3 linked regions of the Homo sapiens genome follow. The protein of the gene in region 1 binds, or shares a complex with, the protein of each later gene. Each region holds a gene or a part of one and is shown on either strand. Other genes may lie near its edges. The genes, in order: PPP2R5C, PPME1 and CRYBG1.

What was found.
Region 2: the proteins of PPP2R5C (region 1) and PPME1 are in contact, whole or in part, in a cryo-EM structure (PDB 7SOY), measured with the Homo sapiens proteins. Residues at the interface, in NP_002710.2 of Homo sapiens: Asp180, His187, Arg188, Tyr190, Gly191, Leu194, Arg197, Ser230, Ile231, Gly234, Phe235, Ala236, Lys240, His243, Asp313, Gln341, Tyr348, Glu353, Tyr354, Glu399; in NP_057231.1 of Homo sapiens: Arg37, Lys38, Arg39, Asn192, Lys217, Val251, Glu252, Gly253, Ile254, Ile255, Glu256, Glu257, Pro345, Gln346.
Region 3: the proteins of PPP2R5C (region 1) and CRYBG1 are in contact, whole or in part, in a crystal structure (PDB 6VRO), measured with the Homo sapiens proteins. Residues at the interface, in NP_002710.2 of Homo sapiens: Lys183, Thr184, His187, Tyr190, Gly191, Leu194, Arg197, Ala198, Arg201, Glu226, Ile227, Ser230, Ile231, Asn233, Gly234, Phe235, Ala236, Lys240, Glu242, His243, Pro265, Gln266, Tyr269; in NP_001358171.1 of Homo sapiens: Pro1136, Phe1138, Ala1139, Met1140, Pro1141, Pro1142, Ile1143, His1144, Glu1145, Asp1146, His1147, Glu1149.

The regions. Positions count from the first base shown.
Region 1 is NC_000014.9:101,904,702-101,908,447, reverse strand, and holds part of PPP2R5C (serine/threonine-protein phosphatase 2A 56 kDa regulatory subunit gamma isoform), read right to left. Parts: intron 2,047-3,746; coding exon 1,919-2,046; intron 1-1,918.
Region 2 is NC_000011.10:74,169,695-74,173,440, reverse strand, and holds the start of PPME1 (protein phosphatase methylesterase 1), read right to left. Parts: upstream 2,153-3,746; 5' UTR 2,020-2,152; coding exon 1,919-2,019; intron 1-1,918. Other genes in the region: C2CD3 (C2 domain-containing protein 3), read left to right, coding at 2,649-2,703. UniProt on the Homo sapiens protein: Demethylates proteins that have been reversibly carboxymethylated. Demethylates PPP2CB (in vitro) and PPP2CA. Binding to PPP2CA displaces the manganese ion and inactivates the enzyme.
Region 3 is NC_000006.12:106,358,584-106,362,329, reverse strand, and holds the start of CRYBG1 (beta/gamma crystallin domain-containing protein 1), read right to left. Parts: upstream 1,614-3,746; 5' UTR 1,422-1,613; coding exon 1,249-1,421; intron 1-1,248. UniProt on the Homo sapiens protein: May function as suppressor of malignant melanoma. It may exert its effects through interactions with the cytoskeleton.

The sequences.
Region 1 (3,746 bases):
GAGCCAGGATGGTGCCACTGCACTCCAGTCTGGGTGACAGAGCAAGACTCCATCTCAAAAATAAATAAATAAATAAAATAAATCAATGCTACAAAGAACAGGTTGTTGAGGGTGGATGTGCTGTATTAACAACTACAACCACCACGCTATTGCCATGAGGGTCTTGGCTGCTGCCTCCACTGCTATCAGCATGGCTGCTGGCCCTACAACCACTAAGTGACAGCAAATGCTTACTTGGTGCCTATCATAAGCCAGGTACTTTACGCATATTAACTTTATCTTAATCCTCACAACCAAGTGAAGATTGTTGCAAGGCAAAGCACTTTACTTTCTCAGTTTTTCCAAAGAGAAACTGTGGCTAAGAAAGACCTGGTGAGAGCTAACTTCCCCGGGTTCAGACAGCTGCTCAGGAGGAAGGCAGGAATGTGAACCAAAGTCATCCTCACTCTGATCTGCCTGCCCTTCTCTGTTGAATTTCTGGGCGGCAACCCTCAGAAGACTTGACGCGAGTGGACTGGCTGGACGCTCGCTCGGGGGTCTGGCTCAGAGCTCCAGGGCTAACACCTGTCTGGCTGCTGCCCTGCAGAATTCTGGGAAGGAGGCAGTGCCACCTGCAGCCTCGAGCGGACAAGGAGAGAGGGTGCATGGGAGAGGGCTGGTCCGCCGGCAGCAGGGTGACTGTGCAGCACAGCCAGAGGGGTGCCCAATAGACACTGCGAGTTAGGAGACCGCACCGGGCCAGAGTGCCGCTCACCAGCTTTGGGACCGCAGACTGGGCTGCGAATGCCCTCCAAGTCTCACCTTCCTCACCCATAAACTAAGGGAGGAGGGCTGGATAGCATAACCTGCTCTTCTTTAAGTTCTGAGTTATAATTACAATATACAATGGAAAGAGATGAAAGAAGGTGGGGAAAGAAAAACTCAGTCGTATTTCTTTAAATAGCAGGAATATTAGATGATACCATATTAATAAATAATATGGCCTGGGCGCAGTGGCTCACGTCGTCCCAGCACTTTGGGAGGCTGAGGCAGGTGGAATACTTGAGTCCAGGAGTTCGAGACCAGCCTGGGCAACATGGCAAAACCCCATCTCTACAAAAAATACAAAAATTAGCCAGGCGTAGCGGTGGGTGCCTGTAGTCCCAGCTACTCAGGACCCTGAGGCAGGAGGTTTGCTTGAGCCCAGGAGGTCGAGGCTGAAGTGAGCCATGATCGTGACACTACACTCCAGCCGGGGGGACATAGCAAGACCCTGTCTAAAAATAAACAAATAAAATACAAATTTTAAAAAAGAAAAATAAATAAATAATGTGGCACCCATATCAACAGTTTCCTTTTAAAGTCTCAGAAGACTATTGCTCAGTAAACGGATTTATTCATCCTCTTTAAGTCAAAAGATGAAGGAGCGGAGTAGGAGGAAATGTTTTTGGCTGCTGGGACTATGGGGCTGTGTTCAGATCACCTGGCTTCCCTCTTCTTCTCCAGGTAGTGACCACTGTGGGGTGGTTCTTGGGTCTCACACAGGGGCTCATCCAGGGTGCATGTCAGCAGAGCTCAATAGACACCCCGAGAATGCAGTGGCCACTGTGCCCCCGCCGGGGCTGAGCCCCACTGGGCTCTGCAGAGACCTTCAGCTTCTCTGCAGGACGCTCAGGAAGAGGCCTAGAAACTGCTGCTACTGGGAGGTGGCTGCAAACCAATGTGCCTCTATACTGGCAGGAATGAAGGTATAAGGTGGTAAATTCAACGGCCACAGAAACAACCCACGCTGCTACTTAATTTATGAGTCCACAAAGCAACTGACCTTCTTGTTTTTTAATTGATATTTAAAATTCTGATATTTATTCTTACTGAAGTAGCAGTAAAACGTGCCATATTTTAAAATGACTGAAAAAGATGGCAGCCAGTTCTTTCTTACTTGTTCCAATGGGTCTTTGAGTTGCGGTACAAGGAAGGAAACATGATGGGCAGAATCTTCGCTGCGTTGTCACTGATTAAACTCATGATGTATTCATTATTCCAGTAATAGAGAGCTCGCTCTGCCACCTGAAAGACACAAGTGGATGGCTTGCTGGAGGTTGTGCCTGAGACATCAGGTGGCTGTCCTTGCTGTTAAACCTGTGAGTCGGGTAATGAACTACCTTGGACCAGAAAATTATGATTATTTCTACAAATTCAAAATATTCTAGACTGTAACCTGTAACCCTGAAGAGCCTTCAACAAAGAGGCAGACAACTTCTTGTACATCAACTCATCAAGAACATTGTCACCTATTTCTCTACTTATTCCGTAAACATTTATGCTAGATGCTGGCTAGATGCTGAGGAGACAACTCAAAGGAGGCCATTCCACCTATCCACCCGCCTCCCCCATCTGTCAGGTCAAGAGGGCGTGCTGTGTTCTGCTGAGCATTCAGCACTGAACAAAGCAAGGCAGAAATCCTTGACTCCACGGAGCTTACATTCTAGTGGGGAGGAGACAGGTGATGGATGATTATTAATTTACTAGAAACGATAAGTCACATACAAAGGGCAGCAGGGCAGGAGAACAGGCAGCGGCGGTGCGTGTGCGGTGGGGTGGCTTCAATGGGGAGGAGGTGACATCTGAGCAAGGACCAGAGGGAGGAGAGGTCCTGAGTTGTCAGCACGGGGCTGGCTGAGGACCACTGCAGAGGGCAGTGGGGGCATGAACAGTAGGAGGGCAGGGGAACAGGGCCTGAGTGCACTGGCGCTTACTCACGGGAAGCCACTAGAGGGTGGTTCCCCCATTTTTCTTTTCTTTTTTTTTTTTGAGATGGATTTTTGCTCTTGTTGCCCAGGCTGGAGTGCAATGGCGTGATCTTGGCTGACTGCAACCTCTGCCTCCCGGGTTCAAGCGATTCTCCTGCCTCAGCCTCCTGAGGGGCTGGGATTACAGGCGCACGCCACCACACCCGGCTTTTTTGTATTTTTAGTGGAGACAGGGTTTTGCCATGTTGGTCAGGTTGGTCTCGAACTCCTGAGATCAGGTGATCCACCTGCCTTGGTCTTCCAAAGTGCTGGGATTACAGGCGTGAGCTACCACGCCTAGCCCATCCATTTTTGTTTTTTAAAAAGAGATGGAGTTTCACTCTGTTGCCCAGGCTGGAGTGCAGTGGTGCTATCTCGACTCACTACAACCTCTGCCTCCTGGGTTCAAGCGATTCTCCTACCTGAGCCTCCTGAGTGGCTGGGACTATAGGCATGCGCCATCGCACCTGGCTAATTTTTGTATTTTTAGTAGAGACGGGGTTTCACCATGTTGGCCAGGCTGCTCTCGAGCTTCTGACCTCAGGTGATCCACCCGCCTTGGCCTCCCAAAGTGCTGGGACTACAGGCGTGAGCCACTGCACTCAGCCCCCCATTTTTATTACTAAAACTTTCAAAAACAGACAAAGCTGCAAGACTAACATAATGAGTGCCCACCTCCCTCCACCCAGATTCAACACTGTTCATACCCTACCCTATTTGCTTTTTCTCTCCGTAGTAAACCAGCACACAAGTGCACGTTCCACAGAACTATCTGGGAGTTCGAGGCAGTCACCAGGACACTTGGCCTGTCCCCATCACAGCATGTATGCCTCTGGGAAGAGGAGCTTCACCTGTATAACTACTGTCAACACCCTTCATCTGCACACAACTCACAGCAGCACTTGGAGGCTCTGAGCAGCATGGGGCTGACGCTTCTCCTGCCAGAAGCCTACAGCTTAGAGATCCTGAGGTTGTGGT
Region 2 (3,746 bases), on another chromosome or scaffold:
CAATCTTCAGAGAACTTGTTTCTCCAAGATGAGAAGCTGAGCTCTAATTAAGCTTATCTAAGGAATGTATAATTATTAAAAATCTGATTTTCTTATGTATTTGTATAGAAGGGTGCTGGTATACTGAAAAATCAAATTTATTTTAAGAAAGGCAGCAACTAAGATATTTAACAACAATTAATGTTACATTAATATTAAACTCCAGGTTAGTTTTCCCAAATAATGTTATGGGTCAGTTTCCAAATTCTCTTTATTCATGTTATAGTCCAACTTTTCTGTCTTCCAAAGCCAAAACAATCTTCACTTTACCTTCTATGTAGCCTTCTACCTCTATTGTGCGTCTATCTCTCTATCTCCTCCTGCTAAAGTTTTCTCATTTTTCTACTGCGTATCATAGCAGGTCTCCACTCAATTCTTAGTTTCCTTCCCTGGTTTTTCCACCCATTTTTCCCATTCCTTTACCCCACTGTTTTATAGGATTCTCCTTTCTTTTCATCCCTAGGACTTACTGTCACAGTACTGCATCTCCTACTCTCGCCTCCTTTTTGATAAGTTTTTACACATATTACTTCTTCAGAACCTAAGGTTTCTCTTCTGTAGTCCTTTTTCAAAGAATATCTACCAATTCATCTCTAGAATCCCAAATATACTCTGGAGCCCTCATACCTAAGTATCTTTCCTACTCCTTTTCTCTTTACAGTCACTAATTCCCAGAATCCTGTTTGAAACTACAAATATCCCCTCAAAACCAAATGCCTATTCAATTCTCTCCACTTTCCAGCAATTACTTCTCCCATGTTCACCTCATTCTTTCTCCTCGGCCCAAGTATCCCCTAACCTGGCACAAGCCATTTAACGATCTAAAATTCCAAAACCTATCTCTTCTACATGGCTCTCCTTCCTTTCCAGCAAACTATTTCTCGAACTCCCAATGCTTCACTAATTCAAAGTCTTAGGCCAGTACGTCGCTTCCCTCAGATCTACTAGCCCAGCAAAAACTGATTGCCCAAATCTTCCTCTAAGCTTCCCAGACCTTACAACTGCAGCACTTCCATTCACCAAACCGTATTTATAGTCATCTCTCAATCTTTAGAGCCTATGGTCACTCTGTAAATTCTTCAGTTCTCTCCTTCTTCTCTCTCCCTTATCCTGTCCAGCTTCTCACTCTGTAAATTCTTCAGTCCTCTCCTTCTTCTCTCTCCCTTATCCTGTCCAGCTTCTCAGCACATTCCTACTACCCTTAACAATCTTCGTGGCTATGTTCTCCACCTTACCTTAGGCCTACTCCCTAAACTTTCTCATTCTCCCTTAAGAGACCTAATCTCACCTCTCATTCGCTGAATCTGTCTTTACACCTCTGGGAATTCTCTAGAATCGTCTGCTTCCTAGTTCTCCTCTTTCCTTCTCCAGCCCTGTCTCGAGTGTTTTCTACCCCCCTCAGCTTTTCTAGTATCTAGTTCTCACAGTGCAGATATTAGAACTCTGATAATATCTACTCCTCCCAAACCTTTCCTTAGTTGTTGGCCCAATTCCCCTCAACTTTTCTCTCAGTCATTCCCCACTTCCCTCCACCTTCCCTGGCCGATTCTCCTCCACCTTTGTCACCGTTCTACTCCCTTTTCTAAGCCTCCTTTATTGTGGAAGTGATTCTCAGATCCCTTATGTTAGTCTCTCAGCTTCCCCAACCTTTGCCTCATTCCCCTCTCCCTTCAACAACGTTATTTTTCCTCCAATTTCTATTGACTTGGCGCCTCCCCTAGTACCCCAATCTGCCTTCTACTCCATCTAAATATCTCCAGGCCGCCAACATTTTCTCCTATCAGTAGACTCCTTTCCCGTGCCTCTATGAACGCCCAGAGATACCATTCTCCAACGGCTGGGGCCTGGCCCATAGGGAGAAGGGGTATGGGTCACGTACCCCATTCGCATCTTGGCTCCGCTCTGACTGCCCCCGCTGCCGGGTAGAGGTGGGCGAGAGGGAAGGCGGCCGAGGTGCATGCTCTTTTCGAGGGCCGACATCGAGGGGAGGCTGCACGCACGTAGTCAAACAGTAGGCGAAGCTTCGTCCCACGTTGAGTGTGGCCCAACCGGTCACGACTCGCTCCCCTAACGACGCCCTGTCGCCTTTGGACAGCACCCAGCTACCCGTAGCACCGCCTACCGCCCACCGGCTCCGTAAACTCCACCCACTCGCTTCAGCGCTTCCACCGGAAGTGCGCAACAGCACTCATACAAAGGAAGCTGGGTAACAGAGTATGAGAACTCCGCAGACTCCCGGCTGGGAACCCGACGACTTTCACCGGAAGGAGGAGCGCTCTTCAGGGCAATGCACCCTGCGCAATGGAGTCCACAAAGGGCGCATCCCTATGCGCTTGCGCAGCTGGAGGCGCCCCCCAGCCAACCCCGGAGAGGTATTGTAGCAAAGCGTCCTGGGTATTGTAGTGTATTGGAGGGAAGGCGTCTTGGCGCCTTCTCTTCGCACCGTTTTCCGGAGACTGTTAGAGGAAGAGTCGCTTTTTCCTGCCTCCCAGGCTGCCCAGCGGCGCCGGTTGCCGGGGAACGCAGGCGCCGTGGGGAGGGATGGCGGGAGGATACTGCTTAGGTGCTGGAGACGGAGTTGAGCTGGTGAAGAAGAGCTCGGGCTCATCATGAAACAACGAAAAGGCCAAGGGTCTGGGGGCAGCCGTGGGCGCAAAAAAAGAGGTAACCTGAGCGATCAAAGATTGAGGAAAGCGTAATAGGAGAGCAGGGTGTAAGGAATTTTAGGGAGACCCGCACCCCCGCTGGATAAACAAGAAAAGGGACGTAAGAAGGAAGTAGCCAGGGAACCAGAAGGTTAAAAGGAAGGGCAATTGGCCCTCCAGAGAATAGAAAGGAATTAGGGGCTGGGGTAGGGGCCACAGACAGGCGATTAATGAGATGAAGGTTACCGGTAGGATGACTGTAGAGGAGAAGAACAAACAATGATGGGATTGGTTTTGATAACGAAGTGAAATGTATGTGTGTGTGTAGCTTTCGAGGTCCACAGGGACAGGAAGAAACATAAATTGGCAAAGGGATTATATCATTTGTTGTGTGATTGTGGGCAAGAATCACGTTTTATACATTACTGAATGACCAAGGATTAGTACAAAGCAGGACTCGGTAAATGTTAGTTGAATGAATGAAGTATGAAGGGCTGACTATGAGCAGGAGTTGGGAAAAATAATTGTAGAGTATAGAGCCGGGAAGAGTGGGGAATGACAGGTGTGATAGGATTGGAGTGGGGGTAAGGGCATGACGATCTCCTGAAGGACCTGAGATCATGAAAGAGTGTGCAGCAGAGAGTCCTCATCAGGTTAGCAGCTCAAGGAGACACAAGCTCACCGAGTAGGGGATGTTAGCTGCAGTGAGAACAGTCAACCTAGGAACCCAGGGCAGATCAGGAAACTTGACATTGAATCTCTACAAGACTGCCTCGAAGGGAAAAAGGACAGTGGGTGACCCTGCCTTTTTGCATTGTAGGCAGTTTAGCGAGAAAAGAAGTATTGGGAACAGTGATAGGACATTAGGCCATTGGGTTGAGGACTGAAGCTACAATCTGGGAATTACTCTTATCCAAGCTGTTTAAAGATTACTAAGGCAGTTTTGAGATACTGACTTTCCTGCCAGGAAAGATAGGAGGATCTGAGACTGAAGCATACTAGTGCTCCCTGTGTCAAAACAGTTAAGCATGTTTGGTTGATAATCGGAAAGTCAAAGTAGAA
Region 3 (3,746 bases), on another chromosome or scaffold:
CAATACAATAAGTGAATGAAAATAGATCGTAAAATTGACTTTTTTTACAAATAAAAGGAGAGGCCGGGCGCGGTGGCTCATGCCTGTAATCCCAGCACTTTGGGAGGCCGAGGCGGGCGGATCATGAGGTCAGGAGATCGAGACCATCCTGTCTAACACGGTGAAACCCCGTTTCTACTAAAAATACAAAAAATTAGCCGGGCGTGGTGGCGGGCGCCTGTGGTCCCAGCTACTCGGGGGCTGAGGCAGGAGAATGGCGTGAACCCGGGAGGTGGAGCTTGCAGTGAGCCGGGATTGGGCCAGTGCACTCCAGCCTGGGTGACAGAGCAAGACTCCGTCTCAGAAAAAAAAAAAAAAAAAGAAAGAAAGAAATAAAAGGAAAACCATGTCTAAAATGCAAATTTTGCACAATTTTATTCTGGCCCTCATAGGGTGTATTTTAAAAACACATTTGGAAGGATTTACTGGACATTGTCAATTGTCCATCACTATAAATATTTCACACCTCTGAGCCATGTAAATACGCTGTTACTTCAAATTGATTATTATTCAACGAATGCATAAACTCTGATGCTATAGTTGAATAATTATACATATAGAATAAAACCACTTCAAAACCATGATAAAAATCAAAAAGCACAATGGTAACTACAGTTTTGATAACTAGGTGCTCTCTAGCTCTGCCACTGGCTCCAATGGGGAGAAGCCATTTATCCTTTGGTCTCAGTTCCTCCACCCATGAAATGGGGGTAACCATTCCTGCCACTTCCTCCTCCCTTCGTATGTTGCGAGGAGAATGGGGGTATAACATCTGTAAGAGCACAGATCTTACAGATATTCACAATAAAGAGCTTTACAATAAAGACACTAGCTCAAAAGCAGTGCCTAACCCCAAAGCAGAGTTCCCGCCATCATTTAGGACGGTAACAACCCTCACTCCCCGCCGCTCTGGTTAGCAGGCTGATGCGGGAGGCTCCTGCATGAAAACTTTGCAGTCATACTAAAGGCCACATGCGTGGGCACAAGTTCCTCTCGCCGGTGCTTGGTCTGAACCAAAAGCCGCGAGGAACCTCGTCAACCCCAGCGGCTACGATCGCTCCCCTCCGGACCCGGGTACCCTCCTGCGGACTGAAACAGACCCCGGGGCTTTCCCCTCCTCCAAGTGGGGTCAGGAGTCCAAGGGCTAGCGCAGCAGGAGAAGGAGGAGGAGGAGGAGGTGGGACTGGAGGGCTCGGGCGAGGAGCTCACCTGGCCTCTCCGGCAGGCGCCGGGAGCGGGTGCGGAACGAACACCCCACAGTCAGGCGGCGCCGGCTGCTGCTTCTTTTTGGAGCGCCAGAGGTGGAAGGTGGTGTGCTTCTTAGGGGGCCTGCACGGGCTGGGCTCCCCGGGGTCGCCCTGGGCTGGCGGGGACAGCGGCATCGTCTTGTCCTCCTCCCGCTCCGACTGCCGGGACGCGGTCCTCTCTGCCGCCCGGGCCCTATGGAAGAACACACCTGAGCGCCAGCTCGCCCGCCTTTCTCAGCGCGCCGTGGGACCCCGCCCCCTCGTCGCGGATGCGGGGGGACGGCCGCGGGTTGCAGAACCAGCACCCAGCGCAGCGCGAGCAGCACTGCAGCCCGAGCTGTTGGGGCGGAGGCGGGGACCCAGCCGCGGAAGAGCGCCCCCGCGCGGCGCGGGCGGCAAGGGGCGCTAGCCCAGGTGAGGCGCTCGCGCCGGGAGCCCCAGGTGAGGCAGACACGCCCCGGCTCCCCACCCCGGGGGCGCGCGGCGGCCGTGGGACAGCGACACCTACTGGATGCTCTGGGCACCGCGACTCCCGACACTGCATCCCAGGCTCTAAGATGGGACCCAGAGCCGGGTCGGGCTTCCACAGCGCCTGGGGTGCAGCGGCCATTGTCGCCTGCGGAGTTGTTGGCCGCTCTTGGCCTGTGACAGGCTGGCAGGGTGAGTCGCTGCTTAGCCACGAGCCCCGCCTGGAGAAGGATGGGAGAGGCACATCCCGGGGCTGGGCCGCCCAGCAATTAGGACTCTTCCACTCTGATCTCTGGGTGGCTTGGGCAATGTCATGTGCTGGTGGCTTCTGTTCCTGTTCGTGAACACGGGTGGCAACTCCGCCAACTCGTCTCCTCTCTCAAGAGTCTGAATAATTAATTTGTACTCACATCTCATAAAACACAAAAGGATTAAAAAAATTAAAAACGCCAGAAGGGAATTAGGCATATTCCCCAATTCCCCAAGAGCTTAATAGATCCCTCGCAGTAAATTAAATGCCAGTCCCACAAGGTATTTACATCATCTGCATTACTGTTGATGACTTTCTTGTCTTAACTTCACAGTCGTGGCTAAATAGCAAAGGAAATTAATACTTAAGCAAAGTAAGTAAACGAACAATTATTTTGGGCATCATTAGAGCAAAGAAAGTGCAAGAACTAAGCACTACTTAAAAATTCAATGCAGTACAAGATCCTCTTTCACGGTAATGTCTTTATTTTCCTCTTTGAAAACACAACTCATTCATTCGTTTATTCACTCATTCAAGGAACATTCATTTTTATTTGTTTTTATTTACATTTTTATCAAGATGTAATTTATAGACAGTAAAATGCACAAATCATAAGGGTAAAACTCAAATTTTTACATATTTATGTGGTTGGGGTGTGAAAAGTTTTTTAATGGAGAGTTGACATTGTCCTAGAAAATTCTTCCGTATGTGGCTTTTAAATGTATGATTATAGGCCAGGAGCGGTGGCTCACGCCTGTAATCCCAGCACTTTGGGAAGCCGAGGCAGGCAGATCACTTGAAGTCAGGAGTTTGAGACCAGCCTGGCCAACATGGTGAAACCCCTTCTCTACTAAAAATACAAAAAAAAAATTAGCTGGGCGTGGTGGTGGAGGTGCGCCTGTAATCCCAGGTACTCGGGAGGCCGAGACATGAGAATCGCTTGAACCCAGGAGGCAGAGGTTGCAGTGAGCCGAGATGGCGCCACTGCACTCCAGCCTGAGCAACAGGATGAGACTATGTCTCAAATAATAATAATAGGTAAATATATATGATTATAAAAATATAGAATACTTTCAAAACTTTAAAAATCTCCCTACTGTCCTCTTCCAGTACATTACCCCTCCCACCTGTAAAAGTTAACCATTATTTCATCCTCTTTTGCTGGAGATTAATTTGACCTTTTCTGGAATTTCATTTTAGTGGAAAATCACAATATGTACTCTGTTTCTGGTTTGCTTTGCTCAATATTAGTCGGTGAAAATCATCTATATTGTTGCTTATATTGTAGCAGTTTTTTGTCTTGTTTTGTTTGAGACAGGGTCTCACTCTGTCACTCAGGTAGGAGTACACTGTTACCATCACCTCTCACTGCACTCACTGCAGCCTTGACCACCTGAGCACAAGTGATCGTCCCACCTCAGCCTCCTGAGCAGCCAGGACTACAGGCACACACCACAGGACCGGGCTTTTTTTTTTTTTTTGGAGGGGGTACATTTGTAGAGACTGGGTTTTTCCATGTTGCCTAGGCTGGTCTCGAACTCCTGAGCTCAAGTGACTTGTCCGCCTCAGCCTCCCACCAAAGTGTTGAGATTACAGGGGTGAGCCCCTGCACCTGACCCATAGCAGTTTTTCATTTAAAAAAATTATTGTATACTGTTCCATGATATGAATATGCCACAATTCATTTATCCATTATTGTGGATGGACATTAGGTTGTTTCCAGTTTGGGGCTATTATGAATA